Linked DNA regions of Homo sapiens. The protein of the gene in region 1 purifies or fractionates together with the protein of each later gene. This does not show direct contact. Each region holds a gene or a part of one and is shown in the gene's direction. Other genes may lie near its edges.

What was found.
Region 2: the proteins of CAMKMT (region 1) and HECTD1 purify together in Homo sapiens (affinity purification with mass spectrometry; 3 studies listed by BioGRID and IntAct, with this or other methods). This does not show direct contact.
Region 3: the proteins of CAMKMT (region 1) and IREB2 purify together in Homo sapiens (affinity purification with mass spectrometry; 2 studies listed by BioGRID and IntAct, with this or other methods). This does not show direct contact.
Region 4: the proteins of CAMKMT (region 1) and COL1A2 purify together in Homo sapiens (affinity purification with mass spectrometry; 3 studies listed by BioGRID and IntAct, with this or other methods). This does not show direct contact.

The regions. Positions count from the first base shown.
Region 1 is NC_000002.12:44,356,740-44,365,407, forward strand, and holds the start of CAMKMT (calmodulin-lysine N-methyltransferase), read left to right. Parts: upstream 1-5,207; 5' UTR 5,208-5,268; coding exon 5,269-5,406; intron 5,407-8,668. Other genes in the region: PREPL (prolyl endopeptidase-like), read right to left, coding at 2,758-2,976.
Region 2 is NC_000014.9:31,197,187-31,205,051, reverse strand, and holds part of HECTD1 (E3 ubiquitin-protein ligase HECTD1), read left to right. Parts: intron 1-7,865. UniProt on the Homo sapiens protein: E3 ubiquitin-protein ligase which accepts ubiquitin from an E2 ubiquitin-conjugating enzyme in the form of a thioester and then directly transfers the ubiquitin to targeted substrates.
Region 3 is NC_000015.10:78,496,817-78,502,419, forward strand, and holds the end of IREB2 (iron-responsive element-binding protein 2), read left to right. Parts: intron 1-309; coding exon 310-495; intron 496-1,216; coding exon 1,217-1,327; 3' UTR 1,328-4,637; downstream 4,638-5,603. UniProt on the Homo sapiens protein: RNA-binding protein that binds to iron-responsive elements (IRES), which are stem-loop structures found in the 5'-UTR of ferritin, and delta aminolevulinic acid synthase mRNAs, and in the 3'-UTR of transferrin receptor mRNA.
Region 4 is NC_000007.14:94,389,408-94,398,084, forward strand, and holds the start of COL1A2 (collagen alpha-2(I) chain precursor), read left to right. Parts: upstream 1-5,487; 5' UTR 5,488-5,624; coding exon 5,625-5,694; intron 5,695-8,340; coding exon 8,341-8,351; intron 8,352-8,677. UniProt on the Homo sapiens protein: Type I collagen is a member of group I collagen (fibrillar forming collagen).

The DNA.
Region 1 (8,668 bases):
CAAGAGGTATAGAATCATGAAATTTTAGCACCTCTAAGACTTTCTACAGAATGACAAGTTGAAACTCCCTATTTTTTTTTTTTTGAGACAGGGTATCCTTCTGTCACCCAGGCTGAAGATCTCACTGTGCCTCAACCTCACTGCAGCCTCGACCTCCCAGGCTGAATCAATCATCCCACATCAGCCTTCCAAGCAGCTGGGATTACAGGCGTGCGCCACCATACCCAGCTAATTTTTAGTCTTTTTGGTAGAGTTGGGGTTTTGCCATGTTGCCAAGGCTGGTCTCGAATTCCTGAGCTCGGACAATCTGCTCGCCTTGGCCTCCCAATGTTCTGGGATTACTGGCGTGAGCCAGTATGCCTGATCAGAACTCCCTATTTTTTTCAGTCAGGAAAATTAGGAGTCCTGATTAGTTCAGTCACACCAATCGTGGCTGGATCTTTTGCCTTCTAACATTCCCACTACACATGCTACTTTTCTGTTCCTTAGTTAACTTATATAGGTAATAGCTCTTTAAGCAGACATTTTAATTTACCTAAAAGCAGTAACTACTTTTTCTACTTTATTACACCCTATAAAAGTGGACAGAGTTGGAAATCAGTGGATGCTTGCTGAAAGAAGGAAATGTGCATTCTTCTCTACAGGTGTTTTCACAGCTGCCGGGGCATCTTTATAAAGCTTCCCCAGGTCTCAGTGATAAAGACCATGGCTTTTACATTACATCATTTCTCATAGAGGGAATGGTTGATACATGACATGTGACAGCAGGATTACTTTATCAGGTAAAGGAATTACTAAATGAACTATTAATACTTGGAGTTATTGAGTCAGGTTAAAGTTTCCAGGTAGTGGGAATCTATAAAAGAGAACGGAAAAGTTGCTTCAGGAACAAATGGAGGGAAGAAATAGTCAACCTTCTGTTTAGAATGTGAGCTAATATCACAGCTGTTACTCTGATGGTAATTCCTGTCTACTATTTATAAACTAAGTGTTAAGACAAAGTACGACATGACAAAATGTTCTAAACACAATGCAAAATAAAATAACCTAAAGGTCCAAAATTTAGTTCAATAGGTGAAATTAAAAATTTTATCTTTCTGAAGTAGGAAAGATGTACAAAAAACACAAAAATGAAATAAAAAGAAGTTATAAAGAATTTCTAAATGAGTAAAGAAAGTACTAAACTAAGGCAAGACACTACAAAAAGGAAAAGAATTTCAAAGACTAAAACATAAACAGTAAAAGTCTAGGAAGACTAGGGGGCTAACATATAAAATGTTAAAAGCAAAAGAGACACACACAACACCTAAATAGGTATCAGCTAAGATAGCGGCAAAAATTGAACAAAAACTAGAAAAACTGAGAAAAATTAGATTGAAAAGATAGTTTCTAAAATGAGAAGAATCTGCCCAAGTGTCCATCAATTACAGGAATGGATAAACAAAATGTGGTTTATACATACAAAGGAATATTATTCAACTATAAAAAGAAATGAAGTTATGATACATGCATACAACACAGATGAACTTTGAAAGCCACTGAATTGCATACTTTAAAATGGATCAAGTGGAAAACTTTGTTATACATATATTTTACCCGAAGAAAGGAGGAAGCCAAAACAGACTAAAAGAAAAATCAGTATGCGACAAAACCAGAAATTAAAATAAAAAAAATATTAAAATCATAAATTTGTGAAACTATTGCAAGAATACCACCCCCAAATATCATTAAGGAACCTAAGGAACATAAGAAGTAAAAGGTAGGAGAGGGATGTCAAAGCAGCAGCAGCACAAATAGATCATTTAATCCTACTTACTGTAGGATGACCATATAATTTACCATTCTAACCAGGACACTTTTGAGAGGAAAGGGGACACTATTAATAATTACACAGGGACAACAGGTGTAGGCTGGAGCTGTGCCAGGCAAAAGTGGTTATGTGGTTACTCTCTATATAAGGGCAATCAGGTCCTTAAGGTTGAGTTCACGCCCACAGCTTGGGGTCTGGCAGAAGTACAATACTCTGACAGTGTCTTCCTGAATGACTCAAGTGGTCAAAAACGCAAGATTATTTTTCATTTTTTTACAGAGAAATAAAATACAATTCATGGCCTTTACTGAAGTTTACTGATTTGTGATTCATAAAACAATTAGCGTATCATTAGATTTTATTAAGAGCTATAATTTAGTGTTCTAGGAAATTTAGAAGGCCGAATTATACTTTGAAATGCACTGGCAGGCATACTAAGGAAGTCCTGAGGTGAATCATTTTTTATAAACCTACATTTTTATATATTACATTAGAGCCCTATAAATATATGTATACACTTTTTTTTTTTTTTTTTTTTTCAGACAGAGTCTCCCTGTCACCCAGGCTGGAGTGCTGTGGTGCGATCTCAGCTCACCGCAACCTCTGCCTCCTGGGTTCAAGAGATTCTCTGCCTCAGCCTCCCAAGTAGCTGGGATTACAGGTGGGTGCCATGACGCCTAGCTAACTTTTGTATTTTTAGTAGAGACAGGGTTTTACCATGTTGGCCAGGCTGGTCTCGAACTCCTGACCTCAGGTGATCTGCCTGCCTCGATGTATATACTCTTTTATACTTACTTTTGACTAGAGACAATTGAGACTTGAAAATTAGAAAAATCAAGTTAGAATTACTGAGAAAATTAGTAGCTCTGATATTCTACCCATTCTTTATTTTTAAATTAAAATTAATCTTAATGACCTACAAATAGGTTAACTTAAACAGTCCATACCTTACATGAGAAGCTCCGACTTGGGATGTTTCTTGCTAACTCTGATATCTTGGGTTTATTCTGAAGACACTTGGTTAGGTGATATTTTTTCAATTTTATTCTATTGTAACAATGATCAGCGAAGTTATAGTGATTCAAATGCTGTTTCTGCATGCATTTTCCAAGGTGAGGAATACTATACTTCAAAGCTTGGAGAAATAATTTGGTCTTCTGCTGCATGATATCAAAGTCCCTGGTTTATGCTCCTTTTGGGGCTGCCAGCACACGAATGATTTTATAGGTATGATTACAGAGTAGTGGGTTCTCAGAGTAACTAAGATCAGCAGTTCTCATCCCTCCTTTTCAGGGCCATGCCCCACTTAGGTTATGAATAACTTCAGACAGCTGATAACTTAGGCTAACTAAATCTAAAAACCTGTGTAAGTTAAAGTTTCATTCAAATCATAATTCTTGGCAGATGTGACTTAAATGTCTCATTTGTAAAGTTAATCCTATCAGGCTCAAACTATGCAGCACTGACTCTGGCACACATAGGGGTTAAACTAAAACAAAAAACAAAACAAGAAACAAAATATAAATTTGCAAATAAGTACACAGACTTAATGGGGTATCTCAGGAACTCAGGGCTGTAAAAGGTAAAAAGCCCTTTGGTCTTACATAATTATGAACGTATCTTTGGTATATATGTGGAAGATAAACTGGAAAAGCCTAATTATTTAATAAAGGTGGGGGAGGGAAGATTAATTATTGTTGAGTGTTAACTAACTGCCAGGTGCTTTTATCTTGTTTGTCTAATTTAAATTTTATATGGACTTAATAAAGTAGATATTACCATGCACATTTTACAGGTTGCCAAACTGTGGCTGTGGGAGGTTCTAAGCAACTGTTCCAGGTCACTTGTACAGTAAGCTGTATAGCAAAAAATCCAATTTGGTTCGGTTCCAAATACTGGACATACTCAACTTCGGATTTTTAATGTTAAAAAGGTATTTAGCGCTTTAATTAAAAACAACAAAAAACCCCTGCAAGATGCACAAATAAAATGTAAGGCCATCTCTGGTTTGTCAGGAGGTAGCTTTTATTAACCTTGATTGCTAATAAGTAGTTAAGAGTCAGAGAGACCTGGGTTGAGGTCTTAGCTCCTACACTTAACTGTGTCTCCGGGCCTCAGTTTCTTCATCTGCAAAAATGAAATGACACCATTTACCTTCTAGGGTTGTTGTTGTAAAGACAAAATGAGACAGCTTAACATTAAGACCATACAGTGCCTGGCACATAGTGACCACTCAATAAATGGCAGTTGCTATTATTTACGACAGGAATAATCTAGGTATGTTGCACACCGCTGAATGTCATTATGGAAGTCTTCCACAAAATGCCCCCTGGTATCAAAGGTAGAATGCTGCGTCAAATTTACCATAGATCAGATGCGCTACGACGCCCCCGCCCCCCTTAATCCCTTTCCATGTCGCAGCAAAATAATGGGCGATTGGGGGTAGGGGAGCAACACTAGTTTACTAGCCGACACTAGTAAAAAAAGGGGAAAAAAGACCCGAATAACAAGGACCTGCAAAGGTCCTACATCACCACGTTCCCACAGCCTTTATCCATCCATCTTTCATCCCCAAGAAGACAGTATGCAAGGCTAGGATGGGGGTGGGGTAGATAAATGGGTGTTCTCAGGAGAACCTATTCGTTTACCCCGTGCAACTCTCCACCCCAGGGATGAGGCGATCTGAATGCAACAGGGAGAGGGACCAGGTGACACGCACGCAGTGCCGGGACATTAGTCAAAAAGCGAGGACCTGGGGACTGAGGGGTGGGTGGCTGGGCGGGGGGAGAAAGGGGAGAAGGAAAGAGACCAGCACACCCCCCATACATACGCAAATTGAGAGAATCAGTCCGGCTCTGGACACAAACCAGTGAAGGCAGGCCGGAGAACCTGAAGCTCTCAGAGGGGAGCAGGTGTCACCGCAGGCAAGTCCAGCCGAAGTCTGCGTTCCGCAGCCCACAGAACGACAACTTACCCAGAGCCGCCTAGAGCTGGTTTGCAGCACGCCAATCTACGTAACCTCAATCTAGCACGAGCAACAGGCAGATTTCGCCATCTTTGTTGTGGTCAAGGAGTCTTCTTGGGTTCCTGGGTTCTTTAGTCTCGAAATATATAAGACTTTTCGTTCTTCGCTAGTCTTCTGAGCTCGAGATGAAGCACAGAAGGCTAAAACAATGAGGGACAGCGTTCCAGTAGCCCTGCCACAGCTCTCTCATCCTCTGGTCCGCCCTCACTCAAGATGGCTACCAGCAAGAATGGTGCAATGGCGTGACAGCTCGGCCCTGGTTGCCAAGGAGATGCGAGTACCGGAAATGCGGAATTCGGGGAGAGCGCGCATGCCTGGTCCGGTGGAGGGAGGGTGCCGGGCGTCACAGGTCCTGACAGGGAAGAAGTTGGCAGGTCCTGGCAGGGGACGAGCTGCGGCGGTGGCACCTCCGGGTGTGGAAGGCTCCAGTGAGATGGAGTCGCGAGTCGCGGACGCTGGGACCGGCGAGACCGCGCGAGCAGCGGGCGGGAGTCCGGCAGTTGGCTGCACCACTCGGGGGCCCGTAGTCTCGGCGCCCCTGGGAGCCGCCCGGTGGAAGCTCCTGCGGCAGGTAAGGGAGAACCTGCTCGCCTCACCTTTGCCTCTGGTCACTCCTCTCTCACGTACCGGGGGAGCGACTGTTCGCAGTTCTTTCCTCTTGGCAGCTCTGGGAGACCCTTCTCAGTTTGCCGGGAGCCACCTGCGAAGCTCCCCCTCGCTTCACCTAAGCGTCCCATCCAAGAGGAGGAATCATGTGGGGTTGGGTGGGGAGCGGGACAGCCAAGGCTGAGCTCCTGGGAAACTCAGATCGAAGTAGAAGAACCCCTTCTAGACATTTTTGTGCGTCTGGGGGACTTTTCCCCTTCTCGCCAGTCTCTGGTGCGCCCGCCGCTCCCCACTGCTCTTTTCCTGCTTCTGTTTTGCCTCCTTCCCCAGTTTCTTCTAGCTTAACTCCCAGCCTGGTTCGAGTTACCGATATTCGTCTGCACCCTCTGGCCCCGTCTTTTGCCCAGCGTGGTTGACTATGCCGGGACTGAGACACGGCATGCGTTCCCTCGGCATCTTCCGTACAGCGGAGCGTGCAAGGAGTAGGAAAAGCTGATACCCTCTCTCACTGAGGTCTCAAAGTTAAATGATTATCTTGTAGTTTGTAGTGATCAGCGAGATTCTCCGTGTCCAAGGTGGGCTAGTCAAAGTGTGTTCGTTTTTGAATGATGGTATCTTCTGGTACTTCAAAGTTTCTGCTGTTACTTACAACTCCACTCGTGCAAGCTTGACGGAAGTTCTGATTTATGATCACTCACATTCTTCGCTCACTTCTTGAAGTGAAGTCTGGTTATTGTTTTTGCATAGCAGTGTTATGCCTCTGCCTGAAGTTTTCTGCCGAAAACTTTACTCAGGAGGACATTTTTCCATTTCTGACAGTTGTGTTTGGAAAAGAGTTTCCCAGCTATTGCCACTTTACTTGAGATTGTGCTTTTAGTATTTTGGGGATCACTTTGTTTGCAGTTGCCTTGAGTCACCTTTTCATACAGTGGTCTTTTAGTGCTTTTAGAGTTATGAGTTAAGTAGATCATCAGAGTTAATTAAGATTTATTTGCTGATACATTGACAGTCTTTCCAGACCAGTAATGATCTGGTTTTGCTATTGTTACAAATGGTATTACAGGATAAGAAAATGCATGTCCTCACAGATCATCATAGGAAGTATCTATAATAAAGTAAATATCTAATTTTTTTTAATAGTGACCACTGAAATGAGATCTGGCGTGAGCTGGGGAGAGTGGACTCAACCCCCCTTCCCCCCTCCTTTTTTTTTGAAATGGAGTTTCCCTCTTGTTGCCCAGGCTGGACTGCAATGGCTGCCATCTCCGCTCACCACAACCTCCGCCTCTAGGGTTCAAATGATTCTCCTTCCTCAGTCTCCCCAGTAGCTGGGATTACAGGCATGCACCACCACGCCTGGCTAATTTTTTTTTTTTTTAAGTAGAGACGGGGTTTCTCCATGTTTGTCAAGCTGGTCTCGAACTCCCCACCTCAGGTGATCCACCCACCTCGGCTTCCCAAAGTACTGGGATTACAGGCATGAGCCACCGTGCCCGGCAACCCCCTTCTTTTTTTTTTTTTTTTTTCGATACAGAGCCTTACTGTGTTGCCCAGACGTGAGTGCAATGGCGCAATCTCGGCTCACTGCAGCCTCCGCCTCCCTGGTTCAAGCAATTCTCCCGTACTCAGCCTTCCGAATAGCTGGGATTACAGGTGCTCGCCATTACGCCCAGCTAATTTTTGTGTTTTTAGTAGAGACGGAGTTTCGCCATGTTGGCCAGGCTGGTCTCAAACTCCTGACCTCAGGTGATTCACTTGCCTCGCCTCCCGAAGTGCTGGGATTACAGGTATCAGCCACCATGCCTGCCACGCCCACCGCCCCCACCCTTCCTTTTTTTTTTTTTTTTTTTTTTAAATAAGATAGAGTCTTGCTTGTTGCCCAGGCAGGTAACTCCTGGGCTCAAGCAATCCTCCCACCTCAGCCTCCTGAGTAGTTGGAATTACAGGGGTATGCCATGATACCTGGCTTTCAGTGATTCTCAGTATAGTAAAAACTACAGCACTTATGTTCATTCTAAATTGCGGTCTAAATGAAAACAGTGACAAGTTTCAGCTGTGGCTGTTACATGAAGTCCCCACACGTTCTGACATCGAAACTTTTGGTATATATCTGCCTGCTTATAGTCTTTTTATCTTCTCTACTTGGTGAATGATTGTTCATTCTTCACACTTCCATTTCAAACTACTCTTCTGTGAAGCCACCCCTAATGCCTCTGGGCTAAGTTAGACCCTCAGCCAACTCTACCAATGAGCCCTTTATATTATTTTATGATCATGTGATCAGGGTCTCTTTTTCTTACTAGAATGGGCATTCACCCTGGGAAAAGGTGATGTTTTATTAATTTACATCCTCTGCACCTAGCACAGGGCCTGGTTAATTGATTTTTAGTAGATGTTGTTCAGTGTCTGTGGAAAGCCTGAGAGTAAGGACAGTCTTTAAGTGGCGCATAGCACCTAGTCCTTAGTGTATTTTATCAGTAAGCTATTGCTAAGTAAGAACCGCAACATCACAGTGGCATACAACAGTTAGTATTTATTTTGTTGGTGCATCTGGGGGCCACCTGGGAGCTGACCGACATAGGCTGTAGTCATCTGGGTATCTCTATGATGCACATGTGGTCCATATGTCTCTAATCTTTGGACTAGTGGGCTGAAGTCCTCATGGTGATAGCAGAGGTATAAGAGCAAGCCCAACCACAGAGACACATTTTAAACCCCTGCTCACATCATGTGTTTATTTCCTATTGGCCAAAGTAAGATATTTGGCAAAGGCCAAATTCAAGGGGCAGGGAAATACAACTCCTTCCTTGGAGGTGACAAAGAGGAAGTGAATATTTTTCTATTACAATTTAATCGATCACATATATTAAACATTTACAAGCTCTTAGTAAATGTATTTCAAATGAATGAACCATTCCTATCCTATATGCATCTAGTACTGGAAAACTATAAGGAATCTAAGCAGTGCTAGAGATATGTGACTCCTTTTCTCGCTCGTGGGACATCTGAAGAACATCTGCTCTGTCTACTTGTTTTTTCCTTTAAAATTCTGTCTTTCCATTACCCTATAGAGCTCCAAGGCTGTCTCATGGCCTTTTACTTTATGTTAACTATTCAGTATTTTCTGTGTTTTGTAATTAACAAAACATAGGTTTTGAGAGAAAACCTGGTTGACCTAGTGCATCATTTGGTTCCAGGTTACATGGTAAGTTGCCAAGATTTGAGTC
Region 2 (7,865 bases), on another chromosome or scaffold:
TTACAGTTTTGAACTCCAGTAATAAGTAATTGAAAACTCTGATGTTTCTTTATTCATTTTAATGCTATTTTAAGGTAATTAGTAGAAAATGTTTGAGATGTTGACCTAAAAAATTTGGTATAATTATCCTAATGTGTTTTAGGTGGGAATAAAGTTTATATTACTCAGTTGGCAAAATTTTTAAAGTACCTTCATTTTTGATTATTGAATAACTTTCAGTTGTAACTCTTGTTAAAACAGTACTAAGATAAAAATCCTTACTAATAAAATTTCCAAATTACAATTAGTTAGTGGTCCATTTATTTCCATTAGTTTTTGTCATTGGCAGAATTTTGAGTATGTAAGAATAACTTAGCCCTTAGTTGACACTTGTTTTAGCAGGATTTATAGTAAAGTAGATTTTTTAAAATTTATTTTTATTTTTTATTTTTTTCCTCATCCTGACTCTCAAGTTAAAAATTGCGTTCATAGATTTCATTAGAGGTAACCTGAAAGTTACTTTTGGTATTTTAAAAATCATACTTGTCAGTCAAGTCAATTGTCATTTCGTAGCTTCTGTTTAGTACTAATATGTAGTAGAAGTATTTGTTATGACATTTAAAAAAGTGTTGCCCGATCATTAAAAAGTCAGGAAACAACAGGTGCTGGAGAGGATGTGGAGAAATAGGAACACTTTTACACTGTTGGTGGGACTGACTGTAAACTAGTTCAACCATTGTGGAAAACAGTGTGGCGATTCCTCAAGGATCTAGAACTAGAAATACCGTTTGACCCAGCAATCCCATTACTGGGTATATACCCAAAGGATTATAATAATCATGCTGCTATAAAGACACATGCACACGTATGTTTATTGTGTCACTATTCACAATAGCAAAGACTTGGAACCAACCCAAATGTCGATCGATGATAGACTGGATTAAGCAAACGTGGCACATATACACCATGGAATACTATGCAGCCATAAAAAATGATGAGTTCATGTCCTTTGTAGGGACATGGATGGAGCTGGAAACCATCATTCTCAGCAAGCTATCGCAAGGACAAAACACCAAATGCATGTTCTCACTCATAGGTGGGAATTGAACAATGAGAACACTTGGACACAGGAAGGGGAACATCACACACCGGGGGCTGTTGTGGGGTAGGGGGAGGGGGGAGGGATAGCATTAGGAGATATACCTAATGTAAATGACAAGTTAATGGGTGCAGCACACCAATATGGCACATGTATACATATGTAACAAACCTGCACGTTGAGCACATGTACCCTAAAACTTAAAGTATAATAAAAAAAAAAAGTGTTGCCATGTTAAAACAATTTAAATGAAATTTTTAAAACATAAAATTTATCTCTATGTAAAATCCTTCCATCCTAACATAACAGCTGTTATTTTTTCCATTTTCCTTTCTAGGCTTTATTCATATATAGTATGATGTAATTTTTAAGAGACTGGGGCCTCACTATGTTGCCCAGTCTGGCCTCGAGCTCCTGGGTTCAAGCGATTCTCCTGCCTCGGCCTCTTCAGTAGCTGGGACTATAGGCTGTGCCACCACACCTGGCTTTATAATGTAATTTTAAGGAAATGAACCTAAAGTTAAGTCAGATATGATTTACTATATGAAGATACAAGAGTATTTCAAGTTGAAGGGGTTAGCCGTGTTTGGGGTAGTGTACCAGTAACCTCCAAAAACTAGACATTTGGTTTAATTTTGTGACTGTTTTGTTTTTAAACATTAGTTTGCTTTTCATTCTATAGCCAGATTTTCTTGTTGTTACAAGGGAAAATTGTCCTGGTTCCTTCTTGAAACTAGTGAGGGAGGCATAGTGAGATGGAAAGAATGGGCTGTGGCATCAGAGACTTGGGTTCAGATTCTTGGTCTGTTGTGTTCATTAGCCTCTGAGAGCCTTACTTTCTTCCCCTGTAAAATGGCAGTAGTCTTTTTTTCTTTTCTGTTTTTTCATATGAAGTCTTGCTCTGTTGCCCAGGCTGGAGTGCAGTGGTGCGATCTTGGTTCACTGCAACCTCCGCCTCCCAGGTTCAAGTGATTCTCCTGCTTCAGCCTCCCGAGTAGCTGGGACAACAGGTGCGTGCCACCATACCTGGCTAATTTTTGTATTTTTAGTAGAGATGGGGTTTCACCATGTTGACCAGGATGGTCTCCATCTCTTGATCTCCTGATCCACCTGCCTTAGCCTCCCAAAGTGCTGGGGTTACAGGTGTGAGCCACCATGCCCAGCCAGTAGTCTTTTTTCCAGTGGGCCTTCTTGTGAGGATTAAAGGAGAGAATGTATGTTAAGTGTTTTGAGTAAAGTGGGCTACCCACTGATGCCATCATTAATAAATATCTAATTTTGAATTTTATTTTAGCACTTTATTCCATGAATAAAGTGATTGATTTGGAAAGGTCTTTTAAAATTCTTTTAAACAATCAACTCCCAGCAGGCAAAAAAAGCAAGATGATGTGCATATTTTGAATATTGGTAAAAATCTTTCATACTACCTTGATTTCATAAAGTAGTAGCAAATAGGACTTAGTTCTGTCTAATAAACCAAAACATGCCTGTATGTCCTGATAATATGTTTGCTTAATTAGCTTGTCTTAATAGTTTCACATCTGTTTAGTCAGGAAAGGCAGGTGGTGTGGTAGAAACAGTGGCCTCTGCAATGGGATAGACTTGGGTTCAGATACCTGCCTTTTCCACTGAATAGTTGTGTGATAGCCTTTGAAGTCTGTTTCCTCATCCTTGCAGGATTTTTCTGAAAATAAATGGGATAATAGTCAAGGATTTCTTTTTCCTTTAACTTAGTATTGTACATGGCTCTCCACTTTTTTTTTTTTTTTTTTTTGAGGCAGAGTCTCGCTCTGTCACCCAGGCTGGAGCGCAGTGCTATTTTAGCCATGCCCAGCTAATTTTTGTATTTTTAGTAGAAACGAGGTTTCACTGTGTTAGCCAGGATGGTCTCAATCTCCTGACCTTGTGATCCACCCATCTCAGCCTCCCAAAGTGCCGGAATTACAGGCGTGAGCCACCGCGCCCGGCCGGCTCTCCACTGTTTGTACCCATTTTGACAGTGTCTTTCTGAAGTTCAACGAATATAACTTCTTCTATGATGTGTCAGTGCTTCTTATTAATGCCTGAACTTATCAAGGTAATGCTCCAGAAAGTAAAACACGTTCAAGATTCGTTTTTGCTTTTACCTGATGTATCGAGTTCTAAAATGTAGTAATGTAAACATGGCCGGGTGCGGTGGCTCATGCCTGTAATCCCAGCACTTTGGGAGGCTGAAGTGGGCAGATCACTTGAGGTCAGGAGTTCAAGACCAGCCTGGCAAACATGGTGAAACCCCATCTCAACTAAAAATACAAAATTTAGCTGAGCACTGTGGCATGTGCCTGTAATCCCAGCTACTTGGGAGGCTGAGGCAGGAGAATCTCTTGAACCTGGGAGCCGGAGGTTGCAGTGAACCAAGATTGTGCCATTGCACTCCAGCCTCGGTGACAGAGTGAGACCGTGCCTCCAAAAAAAAAAAAAAAAGTAAGTAATAGTAATATGAGTTATTAGCTAATGAGCATTTTGTATTCACATCAAAATAGGTGATCATCATATGTATTAATGTTATAAATATGTATTATGGGCATTTCTAGATCTTGCTACTAAATCTGAATATAATTTGAAAGTTATGTCCTCTGGAAATTGAGCATCTCAGAAGATGCTTTTAGGTGCTAGTAGGCTTTATTTAAAAAATAATGATGTCACTTAATTTTGAGGGCACAAAAGGATATACAGTAAAAAGTCCGTTGTCTTCCCTTTCCTGTCTCCTGGTTACTTGGTTCCTCTTCCCAGAGGAAACCACTGTTAATCATTTCCTAGTGTATCCTTCAAGAGATATCCAAGGAACATTGTTTTGAGTCTGGATTCCAAAGTTATTGAACACAGTGGTAAAAAAATCTTTTTTGATATGTTTACACTAAAAGGTAAAAAAATACCTGTACAGGAACAAGTTTTTTAACTTTAAATTGTCTACTTTATGTTAGGTCTTGGAAAGATATGGTGATGACCAAAACAAATACAGCACCTTATGTGCCTAATAGTCTAATAGGGAAAACAGATAATTGTGGGGAAAAAATGTGGTTACAAACTGTGTTAAATGTCATGAAGGAAAAGCTCAGGGTACTGTGACAGCATGAAGCAGGGACAAGACCTGGAGAGGTGGGGATGGGCAGAGTGGTCTTTGGGGAAGTGGTTTTTCTTTTTTTTTTTTTCAAGACAAGAGTCTTGCTCTGTCACCCATGCTGGAGTGTAATAGCGTGATCTGAGCTCACTGCAACCTCCACCTCCCAGGTTCAAGTGATTCTCCTGCCTCAGCCGCCCCAGTAACTGGAATTACATGCACACGCCACCATGCCTGGCTACTTTTTGTATTTTTAAGTAGAGATCGGGTTTCACTATGTTGGCCAGGCTGGTCTCGAATTCCTGACCTCAAGTGATCCGCCCGCCTTGGCCTCCCAAAGTGCTGGGATTACAGGTGTGACCTTTTTTTTTTTTTTTTTTTTTTAAATTAGATGGAGACAAGGTCTCACTAGGTTCCCCAGGCTGATCTAGAACTCCTGAGCTTAAGTGATCCTCCCGCCTTGGCCTTCCAGAGTGCTGGGATTACAGGCGTGAGCCACCGTGCCTGGCCAAGAAAGGGGAAGTGGTTTTTCCTAGAGCTAGGAAGGATGAGTAAGGAGAGATAGGAAGTGGGAACAAAACAAACAAATGCTTGTAGACTTGATAGGAGGCTATGATCCAGAGAGATAGAGGGTTTTGTGATAAAAGTAGAAAGTTGAATATATTTGAGAGAGATTTGGAAGGCAAGATAGTCAGGATTTGTCGAATGATTAAATATGAGAGAGGGAGAAGGAAGTGTCGTGGATGACTCAGGTTACAATGGATGATGATGCCACTCACTGAGAGAGAACACTGGAAAGAGGACCATGTTTGAGAGATTGAGATCATGAGTTTGGGTTTGGATATGTTGAGTATGAGGTACTTTTGAGACATCTCAGTGGAGATATTAAGTAAGCAGTTGTATAAATGGAAATTGGAGGTGAAGCCTGGATTAGAGAAAAATTTTAGAGTCAAGCACCTGTGGAGGTTAATTGTGGCCATGGGATGTGATTGAGATCTAGGGCAGTGATGCTTAAACTCTATGGTCTCAGGACTTCCTTAAGCTCTTAAAAATTATTGTGGATCCTGAAGAACTTTTGTTTATGTTAGTATGCTTACTGCTATTTGCCATATTCAGAATGAAACTGGGAAGTTGTTTTTTTTTTTTTTTTTTTTTTTTTGAGATGGAGTCTTGCTCTGTCACCCAGGCTGGAGTGCAGTGGCACAATCTTGGCTCACTGCAACCTCTGCCTCCTGGGTTCAAGTGATTCTCCAGCATCAGCCTCCCTAGTAGCTGGGATTACAGGTGTGCGCCACCGTGTCCAGCTAATTTTTGTAGTTTTAGTAGAGACGGAGTTTCACCATGTTGGCCAGGCTGATCTTGAACTCCTGACCTCAGGTCAGAACCCAGGAGGCGGAGCTTGCAGTGAGCCGAGATCGCCCCACTGCACTCCAGCCTGGGCGACAGAGCAAGACTCTGTCTCAAAAAAAAAAAAAAAAATTATAATAATAAACCCCTTACATGTTAAAATTTTTTTGTGAAAAATAACTTTTTTAAAAGAAAACATTTTGGGAGAATAGAGGCATTAATTTACATTTTTGCAAATCTCCTTAAAGTCTGCCTTAATGGAAGATAGCTGGATTCTCATATCTGCTTCTGCATTCAGTTTGTTGCATTATGTTATTTTGATTGAAATATATGAAAAAATCATCCACAGATGTATTTGGGAAAGGGAAGAAGAATATTATATTTTTTAACGTAATCATGGATATGCTTCTTTGATAACATGTCAAAATTCAACAAGTGATAGTTTCTTAAGGATTAGTTATAATGTGGATTCTGTTTTTTTTTTTTTTTTTTTCTTCGAGGCAGATTCTCGCACCCAGGTTGGAGTGTAGTGGTGCGATCTTGGCTCACTGCAACCTCCACCTCCTAGATTCAAGCAGTTCTCCCGCCTTAGCCTCCTGAGTAGCTGGGACTACAGGCGCAGACAACCACACTGGAATAATTTTTTTTATTTTTAGTATTTTATGTTGGTCAGGCTGGCCTCGAACTCCTTACCTCAAGTGATGCACCTGCCTTGGCCTCCCAAAGTACTGGATTACAGGCATGAGCCACTGCACCCTACCAGGATTAGTTATAATGTGGATTCTGATATCATATCAGTGAACTTATACTCACTCTGTTACATTAAAATCTGATGGTCTGTCTTATACTTTGAGTGACTGTTTTACCCATGTTTACTTTTGCAAAAATTATGCATTGGTCATGTGGAAAATATCAGTCCACTGAGTTACACAGATTTTCCAAATGTGGACATATCTCATTCCACAGTGCCAAAAAGTCTTATTTGTCAATATGACTACCACTCTCATCAGACAAGTTTTTAAATATTCAGAAGCTTTCAAGCTCATGGTGTCAAATACAAGTTTTCCAAAAATGTCATTTTTGCTTGTAAAGTTGAGTGTTATGATTGGCAACAAATACAGTTGATCGTTTTCCTTGAAATGAAAGGCATACGTGATTAAATTTTGAAAAAATGTTTGCCAGATAGCCAAGTCTGAATGATCAGTTTGTCTGATAGTCCTTCAAGTAAAAATGGTGTTGCAAGAAAAAAGTGGCTAGTTCAGTCCTCAAGTATGTACTTTGCCATTATTCTTCCGTATGCAGTGCTTTATAATTAATTCCCATTTCCTTTAAGTAGAATATTGAAAAGATGTATCTTCAGGGGTTGAGATTTAGTAAATTTAATAATTTTGCTTCATCTAGTTTATTCTTTAGTGAAACTGGCTTTTTTCTTAATACCAGTGCTTGGCAGTGAAGAATACAGTTATCTAGTACAGGTTAGGGCTACTGCCTTGATTCATGTTAAAGCACCTGCAGTTTTATCCACTATTGCTTTTGCATCATTAGTGCGCATGTCAACACAGGAAAGAAAGTGATTCAAGAAGAGAAAGGGCAATTGTTTTGAATACTAGTGAGAGGTCAAGTAGGGGTTAGATGAAAAGATGTCCTTTAGATTTAGCAACATTCTCAAGGTCATTGATCTTAATGAGAGCTGAGTGGAGTGGTGGTGAGGGGCAGATCTGAATGGGTTGAGGAGTGAGTGGAACATGAAATGGAGGACATGTGGAAACTTTTTTGAAGAATTGAATTGGAAAAGGAGTGTGGGGTTTTTTCTTTTAAAGGTCAAAGAGATAAGAAAGAGAGTGAATAATCCCTAGGGTAAGGATTCTGAAAAACTGGGAGAGAATTGGCTTTTGTATAGAAGCAGTGCTTCTTAAATTTTAATGTGCATAATGAGAGTCACCTGGGGATCATGTTAAAATGCATATTCTGATTCAGTTGGTCTTATATGAAGCTTGATATTCTGCATTTCTAATATGGTCCTAGATTATGCAGAAACTGTTGGTCAGAAAATCCCACCTTGAGTAGCAAAACCCTGATCCACTGGTGGAGAGATTGGTTTTAGGCAGAAAGAAGTTGTGTACTGCCGTTGTAACAGAGAAGATAGAGACGTTAGATGCACATGTTTTGGGTTTGATGGTAAAAAGTTAAGGGCTGGGACTGGGCGTGGTGGCTCATGCCTATCTGCAGTCCCAGCACTTTGGGAGGCCGAGGTGGGTGGATCAGTTGAGGTCAGGAGTTCGAGACCAGCCACGGTGCCTGGCCCTGAGTTATAGTCTTAAAAATTGATTTGCCTGTGCT
Region 3 (5,603 bases), on another chromosome or scaffold:
CTTCTGAGCCCTACTTTGGGGTCAAGGGAGCCGGCCCATTTATAGAGCTCTTATGATGTGGTAGGCAGCGGCAGTACTTAACCCTAGAGCAGCAGAAAGGGATCCGAATAATTTAGAGAGCTCCATAAAAATTCAGAAAAATAATCTGTAAGAAGGTTCTGTAAATACTTTGATAAAATATTGATTCAGTATGAGATATTAGACTAAAAGTATTTAGAGAAAGGCCAAAGTAGATTTTTGCCCCCTTTAAATGCTCAATAAATAACTTTCAGAAGTGATTAGAGGGAATAAAATGCACATTTATTACAGGGTGTGAAAGCTGTTTTGGCCGAAAGTTATGAAAAAATACACAAAGATCATTTGATTGGAATTGGCATAGCTCCACTTCAGTTCCTTCCAGGAGAAAATGCAGATTCCTTGGGCCTCTCCGGTAGAGAAACATTTTCTTTAACATTTCCTGAAGAACTGTCTCCTGGAATTACATTGAATATACAGGTATCTCTAAATTTTTCAAATATATGATTATGCACTCAAATGTTTATGAATTATTGAATAAGAATCAATTGCTGTAAATTATATACTAATGTCACTTAATGAATGTTAAGTTGCCATTTAAGATGACTCTCTCTTCCATACTTAGATCTAGCTATGTTAATAGTTCATGTTCTCTGAGGAAAAGTGGAAAGAACTGGGTGCTTATACCAGAAAAAAAGAACACATGAAGGGGAATCTTGACTTCCACTTAACAAGTGTCAGCTTTCTTTTCATGGTGGTCATTTTTTTGCTGTCCTGATCTAATTTTAACCGAGGCATACATACCACTCCAAAGAGAGCAAAGTTGAGCGTTCAAAGTTAGAGCAAAACAGACTTTACAACTAAGAAAAAAGGGGAAAGAGTAGGAGTTACTGATTACATGCAATCAATATTTGGTGTAAAATGAATGTGAGTAGTGAGTATAACTTCCCCAATTAATAAGTCAAAATCTAAATGCAGCTATTTTTCTACTTAACTATGAAGCCCATGGTCAGGTATCTCAGGTGTTTTTCAAGCAGCAGCAAAGTTTCAGGCAATCAGAATATAAGAAATTAGAACCAAGATAAATCAGACAGAATCTGTGGCAAGTATAGTCATTAAATATGAAGACAAATGGTCTTAACCATCAAGTAGCACCTGGAAGATTTACTTGCTCACATGAGATGTTTTTGCTCCTTTCAAGACAAGCACTGGAAAAGTATTCAGCGTGATTGCTTCGTTTGAAGATGATGTGGAAATAACATTATACAAACATGGAGGATTATTAAACTTTGTGGCACGAAAATTCTCATAGTATCTACTTACCATAGATACCTTTCATAACTGGTAACTGCAAAGCCTTTTGTGCTGGACCCAGGAATCCTTACCATGGAGCAGCAGATAGTCCCAGTATACTCACTTATCTCATCCATGGATGTAAATGATGATGAATCAACATAGTAACTGAAATGAAATCTTCTTGATTTTAAATAATATACGAATGGTGCTATTAATATTGCTAAAATCAACGTGTGAAGTGTGTTGTGGAAGAGACCTGTAAGTATGGGGGGGGGGCGATATTTTATCAGACCATTTTGTAAATAAAGGCAGAATTTGTGTTGAAGATTCTTATATGAATAACCTTCCTGGATTTGTTTAGTTTTGCACCAATAAAACTGTGTACTACTGTTTGTTGGTTTAAGAGTAGCAGATTGAAATATAAGAAGCCAGATTAGACTCTAAAATTGTGGCCATTGGAATCTCATTTATAAATGGACCTTTTAAGTATATTAATTCCTCTTCAGAATTGAGCTGGACACATTTGGCATTCTTAGTTTGTCATATAACCAGGTTTATCCTTAGTCTAACTGCAAGGGATGGAACCTGCCCCAGGTCACAATCATTCTGTCCAATCCAGCCAAGGTTCCCTCCACATATGAAGATGGACCATGGCAGGATACAACTGATTGTGTGGCACCATGTATTAGCAGTGGGAATATGTATCACATATGATGCAGCCTTTCATATTTCAGCAGTTTGCCACTGTGACTGTCTGGCAAGCCCCCAGATGGCGTTATATTAATTGGATTAGATTATTTTGCTCACCTTATGTAATACTGTAACTTCCTATAACCTAATATTTTCGGTATCATTAACCAAAATTTCACACTCATAGTTGCTAAAGAGAATGTTATTCAATCATTAAACTCTGAACTGATTTCTTCTATACATTTAAATTATCCACCCTCAATAATACGGGTGCTCAACCCTATGCATTTTTTAAGTGTTGCTATTTCTTAATTAAATTGATTTCCTGTCATTTTGAATCATTTATCACCTGCGATGCATGATTCTATTAATTTTGTTATGTTACTGTTTTAACCAAAGCTGACCGTAAGGATAAAACACTTAAGTTGTTGCTGAGTACTATATATCCTCAATATGCATGTCTGCCCATCACATCAAATGTTCTGTCAACAAGATGTTTGGTAATTTTTTTTAAAAAGGTTGGAAAATTAATTATAGAAGGTTCTATACTGTTTTTTTAATTAAGAAACTAAGTCTAGCAGGCTAAAGGTTAATTGTAGTGATTTTTTTTCACATAGATATCTTTCTATGACCTAGTTAGTTACTGCAATTCAGAATTAGTTCACATTGCATAAAGAATTACTTGTTGTAAGCAAAATGCTGAAACTACCAAACCAGTGGATGAAGACCACTAAGAACTTTGCACATAATCATACAATCTTTTGAAAATATTTTGCAAATATGTGTTTAGACAATAAGATGGACTAGAGTTCGACAAAATGATTTCTTTATTTAAATTTTGTATAAGTATTTTCTTCGACACTTTCAAATTATATTGTGTTCTTGATATATGCTGTATATTTATTTGTTAGTGCATGTGTTTTTAATTTACATGAAAACATGAGTTAGGAGAAATTACAGGTTGAAAGATGAAATGCCTGTATGTGCTCTGAAGAAATGGTAATTCCAGATTGTGCAGGGGGAAACAAATCTATTTTGTTTTGTTTTGTTTTTTGAGACGGAGTCTTGCCCTGTGGCTGGGCTGGAGTGCAATGGCGCGATCTTGGCTCACTGCAACCTCCGCCTCCCGGGTTCAGGGGATTCTCCTGCCTCAGCCTCCTGAGTAGCTGGGACTACAAGCATGCACCACCACGCCCAGCTAATTTTTGTAGTTTTAGTAGAGATGGGGTTTCACCATGTTGGCCAGATGATCTGAATCTCTTGACCTCGTGATCCGCCCGCCTTGGCCTCCACAAGTGCTGGGATTACAGGTGTGAGCCACCACACCCGGCCTATATTGTTTTGAAAGCATACTCTATATATAGTTATGGGCAGAGGCACAGGCATCCTCAGCAGCTGATTCAGGAGATGATGGTAAAGCTAGCTAACTATGAATTAAACATTCACATATCCAGTCTACCTGGTCCAGTAATAATACAAGCAAATCTTGTATTTCAGGAACAAATCAAGGTTCTCTTAATTTTTTGGCTTATATACAATGAAGTAAAAACTTGATAAACATGGTTTCAAATTGAGGAGGAGAGTCTTGGATGTATGTTTTAATATGTATACCTTATAATTCTGCCTCTAGCCAAATGCTATGTTTGCAAAATGTGGCATCTGTTAGTTTTTATTGTCTGTGTCTTCTTTGTTTACTATACCTTGGGTAATTTTGTGTTACCAAAAAAAAAAAAAAAAAAAGGAAGTGTAATGTCAGACACACAAGAAAAGCAAATCAGTGTTGTAAGCTTAAAGTACAATTTCAAAGGTCACTACCAACAGCAGGGTTTTTTTTATACTTTGAAAACATTATGCTACATATCATTGCCATTTTCATATTTTGGGGTTTTGCTACTCTTATACAATGGAATCAATGGAAATGTCATCCAGCCACTGAATTGCCATTATTATATCTAAAAAGTTTCTAAGATGACAGTTATCACTATTTTGTTTTATCTCCATGCTGACATTTGAAAGAAGGTACTAGTATCCCTCTAGCCAGATTGCTTAGTTTTTCGTTGGTAATCAAACAACAGTTGTACTAAAGGAAAGTAAAGCTAGGACCTAAATCAGAATCATAGTTGCCTGCATATATGGTAACAAGGTCGTGTGCATTTGCTTTCACAGTGATGAGTGAGAGGATGAGAAGAAATTATTTGACATTTTTCTGTGGTTGAATAGAAGACACCTTTCTTTTGTCTTTAGGTTTAGGAGGAGATACTAAGATACTGGATGTTTATCCTATCTTAGTTTGGTTGGAGTAATAAGAGAGAAGAAGAGGGTGGACTTTGGCTTTTCAGTGTTTTTTCCCCTAAAGAGTGATATTGCTGACGTTTCTATCAATTTTACACATAATATGTGGCTATGAAACCATATATCTCACTTAAGTAACAAAGTAATCACTTTGTCTATCACTAAGTAATAGACAAAAATCATTGTCTATTATTTAAAGCCAACAAAACAGTGTAACAGTTTTAAGTTCAATAATGTTAAGTATTGTATAGAAATATATTGGAGGCAAAGTTCAGTTGATGACAATTGTGTATATGTTACTGATGCTGTAAATTATTTTTAATAAAGAAAATTGTATTATCACATTTGATTCTTGTTCTGTTTTGTAGTAGTTGAAAATAAAACAACATGATGTAAAAAATATGCTGCCATCCGGCTGGGCACGGTGGCTCACGCCTGTAATCCCAGCACTTTGGGAGGCCGAGGCAGGCGGATCACGAGGTCAGGAGATCGAGACCATCCTGGCCAACACAGTGAAACCCTGTCTGTACTAAAAATACAAAAAAATTAGCCGGACATGATGGCGGGCGCCTGTAGTCCCAGCTACTTGGGAGGCTGAGGCAGGAGGATAGCATAAACCCGGGAGGCAGAGTTTGCAGTGAGCAGAGTTCACGCCACTGCACTCCAGCCTGGGCGAAACAGTGAGACTCTGTCTCAAAAAAAAAAAAAAAAAGCAAAAATGAAATGTCCCGCCATCCAGATGCCATCCAGGAGCAGCTGAGGATGCCTGCTCCCTGTGCTGCCCGTTCATTAGTGTTCATGAAACAAGTCATCGGAAGCTGGGAGCCAGGATCCCAGGTGTATTTGTTTGTTCTCGCATTGGTATAAAGAAATGCCTGAGACTGGGTAATTTATTTTAAAAAGAGGTTTAATTGGCTCATGGTTCTGCAGGATGTACAGGAAGCATGATGCTGGCATCTGCTTGGCTTCTGGGGAGGCCTCAGGAAACTTACAATCAAGGTGGAAGATTAAGTGGGAGCAAGCACTTCACGTGGCCAGAGCAGGAGGAACAGAGAGACAGGGGAGGTGCCACACACTTTTAAACAACTAGATCTCAGGAGAACTCACTATTGGGACAACACCAAGGGGGATGGTGTTAAACCATAAGAAACCACCCCCATAATCCAGTCACCTCCCACCAGGCCCCACCTCCAACACTGGGGATTACAATCCGACATGAGATTTGGGCGGGGACACTCATCCAAAAAGACGTATCCTTTCTTCCCACTATTATTAGCAACCTAAAAGAGTAAGGTTTATTTCTTAGAATT
Region 4 (8,677 bases), on another chromosome or scaffold:
ACGGCTTTTCCCCATCCAAAGTGGCTGCTCCTTCTCAGTTGCCTTGATGATTTTCCTCTTCTGTTCATTCTTTAACATTGGAGCTCTTCAGAGTTTTGTCCTATGTTTGATTGTTTTCTACTTTCACACACACATATAATCTGGGAGATTTCATCACTCCCATGACATCAGTCATCTGATGACTCCTTTATCCATAAGTCAAGGCCAAATAGAGATTGTGGACTTGAGGCCTAAGTATCTAATTATCTATGAGACTTCTCCTCTTAGGTGGCCCACAATCACCCAAAATTGAACATGAATTGGCCTCTTTATCCTCCCCTCCCCACCCCAAGCTATCTCCTCCTCAAATGTTCCCCAAGTCACTGGATGGCACCTCCAGTCATCCAGTTGCCAAAGCCAGAAACTGGCAGTGCTCCTTAAGTCATCCCCTTGAATTCTTCCTCTCTCTCTCTCTCCCCATTACCAAACATCAGAGCACTTTTCTTCTACTTCTGAAACATTTCTATAGCTCATCAACTTCTCTTGAGCTCCACCACATCTATCCTAGTTCAGGCCACCATCATTTCCCCTCAGAATTCCTGCTGCAGTCTCCTTACTGTTCTCCCTGTCTCTACTGTGCTCCCCTTCTAATCGTTTCTCCACACTGCAGCCCCAGTCATCTTATTCAAAACACTCTCTGGTTTCCTACCCTCTCTGTTTAAAATAATCTAAACACTCCCATAGCACACTTGAGAAAACACAAACACCAGAATACAGCCTAAAAGGTCCTTTTTGATCTGGTCCCTGCCAAAACCACCAATCTCATCTCTAGCTCCTTCCTCTATCCTCCCTCTTTTCCACCACAATCCCATCGTACTGAAATGCTCCATTCCTCAGATTGCCAAATTTTTCAATGCCTCTGTGCCCACACCACTCTCACACCTCTTTTTAAAATTTTGTTTGTATTTAAGGGTTGAACAAGGATGTTGCATCCTCCAGGAAGCCCTCCTTGATTCCACTTATCTGAATCTAGATGAGGTGTCCATCCTAAATCCTCCCATAAACATGTAAGCATTCTATTCCTCCATTACAGTATTCATCACACTCTTCTCTATCCTCCAACAGACTATAAGCCCCCTGAGGGCAATGACCTTGGCATTCTGTTTCATAATTATATACCCACCAACCCAGTAAGTGCCTGGCATAACACTAAATATTGCTTGAGTAAACATACATCTTACCAGCTGGGCGAGGTGGCTCATGCCTGTAATCCTAGCACTTTGGGAGGCCGAGGTGGGTGGATCACCTGAGGTCAAGAGTTCCAGACTAGCCTGGCAAACATGGTGAAGCCTCCTCTCTACTGAAAAATAGAAAAATTAGCCAGGGGTGGTTGTGGACACCTGTAATCCCAGCTACTTGGGAGGCTGAGGCAGGAGAATCGCTTGAACCCAAGAGGCAGAGGTTGCAGTGAGCTGAGATCGTGTCATTGCACTCCAGCCTGAGCAACAGAGCAAAAACTCTGTCTCAAAAAAAAAAAAATATATATATATATATCTTGACTCATTTAAATAATCAATGGGAACTGAATATCCTAATTGATATGACACAGAGCAGGAATCTCCATGCCTTTCAAACAAATATCACAGAAAGAAATCAGCCCTTGCTGGGCACAGTGGCTCACACCTGTAATCCAAGCACTTTAAGAGGCAGAGGCAGGTGGATCACTTGAGCTCAGTTGGAGTTTAAGAAAAGCCTAGGCAACATGGTGAAACCTCATCTCTACAAAGAATACAAAAAATTAGCCTGGCATGGTGGCATGCACCTGTAGTCCCATCCACTAGGGAGGCTGGGGCAAGAGGATCACGTGAATCCAGGAATTCGAGGCTGCAGTGCCCCCAGATCATACTACTGCACTCCAGCCTGGGTGATAAAGTGAGACCTTCTCAATAAATAAATAAATACAAAATTAAAAACCAGCACTTAACTCTTCAGCTACCACATTAATTCTCAGCAAATACCTTCTTAGCAGTCGTTTGACAATCAAGTCAACTAGAACTGGAACTAGAATGAGATAACATGGTATTGCTTCTTCTCACAGAGTAGATCCTCAATGAATGTTTGAAAGGAGATGTCAGTCCGATGTTTACCTTTGATCAAAGAAAGGAATATAAGATTAAGACATCAGGGCCTCGTCAGGCTGTTCTGCATTTCTGTATTAGCCAGACTCTCAACCATTTTCTTGCCATATATAAACATGTGGCCCAGTTTGTAATCAGTGGGTTATAGGAAGCTAAAGAAATTATCTTTTCTTTCATAGAAAATAATTTGGGCATAGGAACCCAGGTATTAACCGTCTAGCACCAAAGTTGTAGGAATCTTTAGTCTCCTCTGCCTCCCTTCTTCCATCCCTCTACTCTCAGTCTTGACCCCACCCCACCCCTTACTTGTTTTTCCTTCTACTCATTTTCTCCTCCCTCCCTCTCCCCTCTCCCCACACTAGAACCATCAGGGCCCTCACCAGGGCATTCAGTTCAGGTTCTGGGTCAGCTCTCACAGCTCTACCAGTCCCACCCCCATCCCCAGGAAAAACTGCTCCTTATTTGGAGTCACAAAAATATTTAACAGAGATCTAACTGACCACTAAAAATTCCTCCTTTAAAACAAACACCTAATCAACTATTTTCCCCCAAGTTATATGGAAAAACAGCTGCAATTAGAACTTGATTCTCACTTTAAGAAAGAAAGATTCTTGTTTGGTTTTCTCCACTTTCATTTTTTGTTTCTAGGTCCAGGGCCTCCCACCAAATGCTGACGGCTGCCTGCTTCAAACCCTGCCACATCAGCAGGGAGGGAGCACAGCGGCATTTGGTATTTGCATCAGTTTCCAGGAATGCTTTTCAAGTTATCAGTTCACTCTGCTGCCTTTAGCAGAGACGTTTTCCCTCTAAGTTTATAGATGTCTGCTTCAATTTACAGTCCTCTAATTCTCAAAAACTTGCTGAGGATTTTTCTTTTTTGGCTAAAAGAGAAATTATAATCACACTTCTAAAAACATTCTATGTTTTAAACTATTTTGACAACAACAACAAAACCTACAATGAAATGTTTAAAACTTGGGATATCTATTGCAAATCCAATGATTGAGCCAACTTGACCCCAGAAGCGTTATCAGATAACCTCACTGAAGGGTATTTGGAGGGTTTCTTTCATAAATCTGTTGCATTACCACCCTGAGTCATTTTGCTCAGAATTAGTCTCTGACTCTCAGCAACACAGGACAAATACACACATATGCCCTGCAAAGGTAATTCAGCACAGTGGTAACAATGATTCTTAGAAATCATTTCTCACTCTTCTGATATGCAGAAAAAAATTTGTTATGATGTAGTATTGAAGTTTTTCTTTCCTGATAAAAATGATTTCCACTTTAAAAGTTTTTTGTTAGTTCTGTAACGGTGATATTTCAGGGAAATGTTAAAAATGTTCTTGGAATATACAATTCAACCTCAGGTCTTTTGTTGTTGTTGTTCCTAGAACCTAGAAAACTTCAAACATTGTTGCCTAGTTAGAAAAAAATTTGAATGTGGATTGCTCCCTGTAAACCCCCTTCTAGGAATGACCAGTAACCCTTTCAAATTCTTTCACTCCCAGTTACTTCAAAAAATCATCCAAAGTGGTCTCCCAAGTGAGTGCCTTTAATTAGAATAAAACAAGAGTTTATTATAGTTTTTGGTTATCCACTTTTACTTGCATTAACCTTTTTTTCTTCTTTTACATTTAGAAAGAGTAACCTGCTTTAGAATAGTCCCTTTTATTTACAGAAGCTGCTGATGGAGTTAACTTCTGCAGAAATTCTTCCTTAAGGCAAAGCAAAAAAAGCGGGGAGGGGGTGGGGGGAAGGAAGGGAAAAAGATTCTCAGGGAACTACAGCCCACTTGCTTCTGTTTCTTAGAGACAGAACTGACCTAAAGATGCCCCCTTTGCGATGACTTCTGGGATAGAGCAGCACTCTAACTAGGCCCCCGCTGCCTCATGGGGACCTTAGGCAAGTAGAGGAGAGGCCTGACACACACACACACACACACACACACACGCACACGCGCGCGCGCGCACACACACACACACAGCCTTTCAAACCTAGGGCCTGGAATGCCATCCCAAGAGGCTTTAGAAAAAGGCACAGGACCTTTGGCCTCCCACCTCAGGGTCAAAGTACCAGTTCCTCCTCTCCCTAGTAGGGAGTGGAGGGTTGGATGGAGGCGGCCAGAGAAGAGGGAAGTTGGGTGCTGGGGAGAGAGTTAACATCCACGTTGGTGGGCGCACTGCTTGGGGTGTTACCAGCGAAGACTACGAAGACCCCAAGCTCGAATCAGAAGGGCCTCTGGATGTGCTAGGGGAGGTGCTTGGGTGTGGCTGTAAGAGATGGGACAGAGAGTAAGCAGCAAGGTCAAGAGGGACCGGGGGGCTCACGGGAGGGTTGAAGGGTCCAGGCTCAGGGTAGAACTGGTAAATCCAGACAAGGAGCCCATGGAGAAGGGGAGGGGAGACTGGAAACCATGAAAGATCCCCCACCGCAGCCTCAGAAAGGAGAGACTGAGAAATAAGTTCTCGGTCTCCAGGTCGGTTGGAGTCGTGTCGGAGTGCCAGACCATCCCCCAAAAGACCCTCTTTGGAATGAGCCTCAGCAAAGGCAAGCTAGGAGGTCGAAGGACTTCCCCAGGTGACTCGGTCTAGTCTAGAGTTCGCAAAGCCTATCCTCCCTGTAGCCGGGTGCCAAGCAGCCTCGAGCCTGCTCCCCAGCCCACCTGCCAACAAAAGGCGCCCTCCGACTGCAACCCAGCCCTCCACAGACAGGACCCGCCCTTTCCCGAAGTCATAAGACAAAGAGAGTGCATCACTGCTGAAACAGTGGGCGCACACGAGCCCCAAAGCTAGAGAAAAGCTGGACGGGGCTGGGGGCGGGGTGCAGGGGTGGAGGGGCGGGGAGGCGGGCTCCGGCTGCGCCACGCTATCGAGTCTTCCCTCCCTCCTTCTCTGCCCCCTCCGCTCCCGCTGGAGCCCTCCACCCTACAAGTGGCCTACAGGGCACAGGTGAGGCGGGACTGGACAGCTCCTGCTTTGATCGCCGGAGATCTGCAAATTCTGCCCATGTCGGGGCTGCAGAGCACTCCGACGTGTCCCATAGTGTTTCCAAACTTGGAAAGGGCGGGGGAGGGCGGGAGGATGCGGAGGGCGGAGGTATGCAGACAACGAGTCAGAGTTTCCCCTTGAAAGCCTCAAAAGTGTCCACGTCCTCAAAAAGAATGGAACCAATTTAAGAAGCCAGCCCCGTGGCCACGTCCCTTCCCCCATTCGCTCCCTCCTCTGCGCCCCCGCAGGCTCCTCCCAGCTGTGGCTGCCCGGGCCCCCAGCCCCAGCCCTCCCATTGGTGGAGGCCCTTTTGGAGGCACCCTAGGGCCAGGGAAACTTTTGCCGTATAAATAGGGCAGATCCGGGCTTTATTATTTTAGCACCACGGCAGCAGGAGGTTTCGGCTAAGTTGGAGGTACTGGCCACGACTGCATGCCCGCGCCCGCCAGGTGATACCTCCGCCGGTGACCCAGGGGCTCTGCGACACAAGGAGTCTGCATGTCTAAGTGCTAGACATGCTCAGCTTTGTGGATACGCGGACTTTGTTGCTGCTTGCAGTAACCTTATGCCTAGCAACATGCCAATGTAAGTGCCTTCAGCTTGTTTGGGGGAGACTGGGTAGAGAGGTTAGATGGGAGGGCACCCTGCCCTGAAAAGGAAAACCTGTAACCTGAATTCCAGGTACACTTGGAGGGCAGACTCTCAGGCATGTGGGAAAACGCCGGAATTGATAAGAAACATGGAAATTACTTTAAAAAATGAAAACATAAAAGCCTTGCCAAAAGTTAGGGAACTTTTCCTCTAAGTTCAGAGTGAGACAGTTAACTCGGTCTGGCTCCTCAGCTTAGTAACCCCCAAAGGGAGCGGAAGGTCTTTTTCCCTAAGGATGAGATATTAACGACCAATGTGGTGGAGGAAGTCAAGGGCCTGCACCCCACAGGCCCCATAACCGCACTGATGTCCACCTTGTAAAACTTGAGGCCTGCGTTAGAAAGCCCTTCAACTGAGTAATGTAAAACTCACCTCCTAAGAGCTTTTATCTTCTGGGCATTGTAAGGCTTGTCCGGAGGAGGAGGATGACGATGCTGATATGATGATGGTTATAAGGCGCCCTCTGGAGGAAGGAAAATGAAAGTACAGGGGACAGGGCCTTAAGCAGATGGAATCCCAATTAAAGCTTCTACGGATTTATACAGATTAATGATCAGCATTTCTGGTTGGAGCCTTTCCCAGTGGCTAGTCAGTGAACCCTGGAAAGAAGAATGGATGCTACTTGGAGTGGGTACATTCTGAAAAGTAATATAAGTGTCTCAATTCACTTTCTAGTCATGGAAATGGTAACATTTTTTAACTCAAATCTGCTCTAAATTTTGTTTGAGCCTGAGAATTACCCCTTTGACATGTTCCCAGTGATAAGCAAACATTATGAACGCAGCAAGTTGAGAAATATCAACATTGAGATGAGACTCAAGAGACCGGGGTTTTTCCCATGAGTCTGACACCAATTTGCTGCGTGACTTTGGGCAAGTCAAACGGCCTTTTCTAAAATGTGAGACAGAGATTAAAGGGACCCCAAGGCCACTTTCCAGCTCTAGGTTCCATGGCCAGACTTTCATGTCAACAGAGAATGAAGAAGATCAGTCCGTTTTCATCTTGAAAATGGCTGCCAAAGTGCTAGACAAAGATATTGACTAGATGGGGGATGGTATTGTCTGACCACACCCAGTACTCCAAAAAGTTGTTCCACCCACACAGCACGGTGTCTACCACTGCATAATTTCTAATGCATTTGTGTGCTTGTGTGTGTGTGTGTGTGTGTGTGTGTGTCTGTGTGTCTGTGTGTCTCTTCCCCCTTCATTCACTTTTAGTATACATACTGTGGATACTAAGGAGTAATTGCAGTGAACAAATTCACATTACCGAGTTCATATTTTTAATGAGATCTTGAGAGTGGGAGGAAAGAGTCGGCTCCTAGAGAATAAAATGAAGGCAGACTTAGGGAAATTTGAAGGTACAAAGGCAACTTACCTTCTGATCAACAGCCAACCACAGTCTGGAATAAATGTTATCAAACACACATTCTTCAAAATGGTCCATGTCTGAGTAATTAAAAGGCAAATTTCCAAAATCATAAGGACTTCCGTTAATCAAGTCAGGCATAATTATTCTTCCTACTGATGGACACAATGAAGTAAACATATCATTCTTGTAATTTAACAGTAATTCTCGTAAATTGCCCTTAAATGTCAGTGCTGGATGTGGTCCACCCTCCTAAATTGTGACTGTTGCAACAGATGTTCTCACTTCAAATAACGCACTTCTTGGCCACCTAATTAAAGCAATTTTTGGGGTGATTCATCCTACTGCAAGCTTGGCCACACTTGTATCCTGTATTAACCTATAATTTTTGTACCGTAGGAGAAGAATTCACTCTTTAAGGACTTATAACAATTATGGCAAAAGGGGGGATAGTACTTTTGTTTATTTTTTCTATTATTTTTCAAGATCTTTAATCCGGTTTTTCCATTTATACAAAACTCTTTCTCCGAGACAAAAATGATACATATTGGTAAAATGATCTTACCTAATTTAAGTGAACTAATTTAAAGCAAAATTCAGATGTCTGAATTAATCCATTTTCATAGTTAATAATGTGCAAATTAGACCTTTTGAAAAAGGATATTAAGAATGGTACAAACTCAATGAAGTACTAGGTAACTTCAATGTTTTATAAAAAAGTAAGTCAGCTTCAATGTTTCATAAAAAACAAATTCAATATAGAATTTTAAGGTAACATACTTTCCTAAATTTTACCTTTTTTCGATATTTAGGTATTAAAAATGATCAAAATCATAAATTATTTCCTCATCAATCTACTAGTCTTACATTCAGCGATTCATCTGTGCACTTTACCAGCTTAATTGCTAAGCATTCAAAATATCCTTCAGACACATTAATATTTCACAACAGTTATAAAATAGTAAATAATTAATAATTTAATTCAAAATACATTTACATATTAATATTGCAAACAAATCACCCTGCTGATCCCTGCCATACTTTTGACCTGCATAATTTCTAGGTCATTAAAATATTCTTAAAAAAATATAATTGGTCCTTAATTAGGTAATTCAATTCTATAAACTTGTTTCTCTATTTGTTAATTATTGCTATTGATCCATGAAGTGATACTAATAATTGTTTCCTACTTTTTCTTTTTTTTTTCTACAGCTTTACAAGAGGTGAGTAAAACTTTTTTTAGAATTTTTAAAAATACTTTGATTCCCTTGGCTACAGTGATGTCTTCTCTTGGAAGGGAAGAAGTTACATTAATATTGACCATCCTAGATTCCCAAGAAAATTGTGAAGAATTATGATAGTCAAAACCTTTCTGGCTGCCTTAGAAAGTACCCACCCAATTTTCCAAAATAGGCGGGGCTACTGAATAAGACTAGGTTTATAAAATATTCATAAGAAATATAGAGTAAATAATCCAATAGAAGTTTGAGTTTTAGGATCAGCTTCTATGAAGCAGAAGATTTCACTGAGCTAGAGAATCTTTTCACTC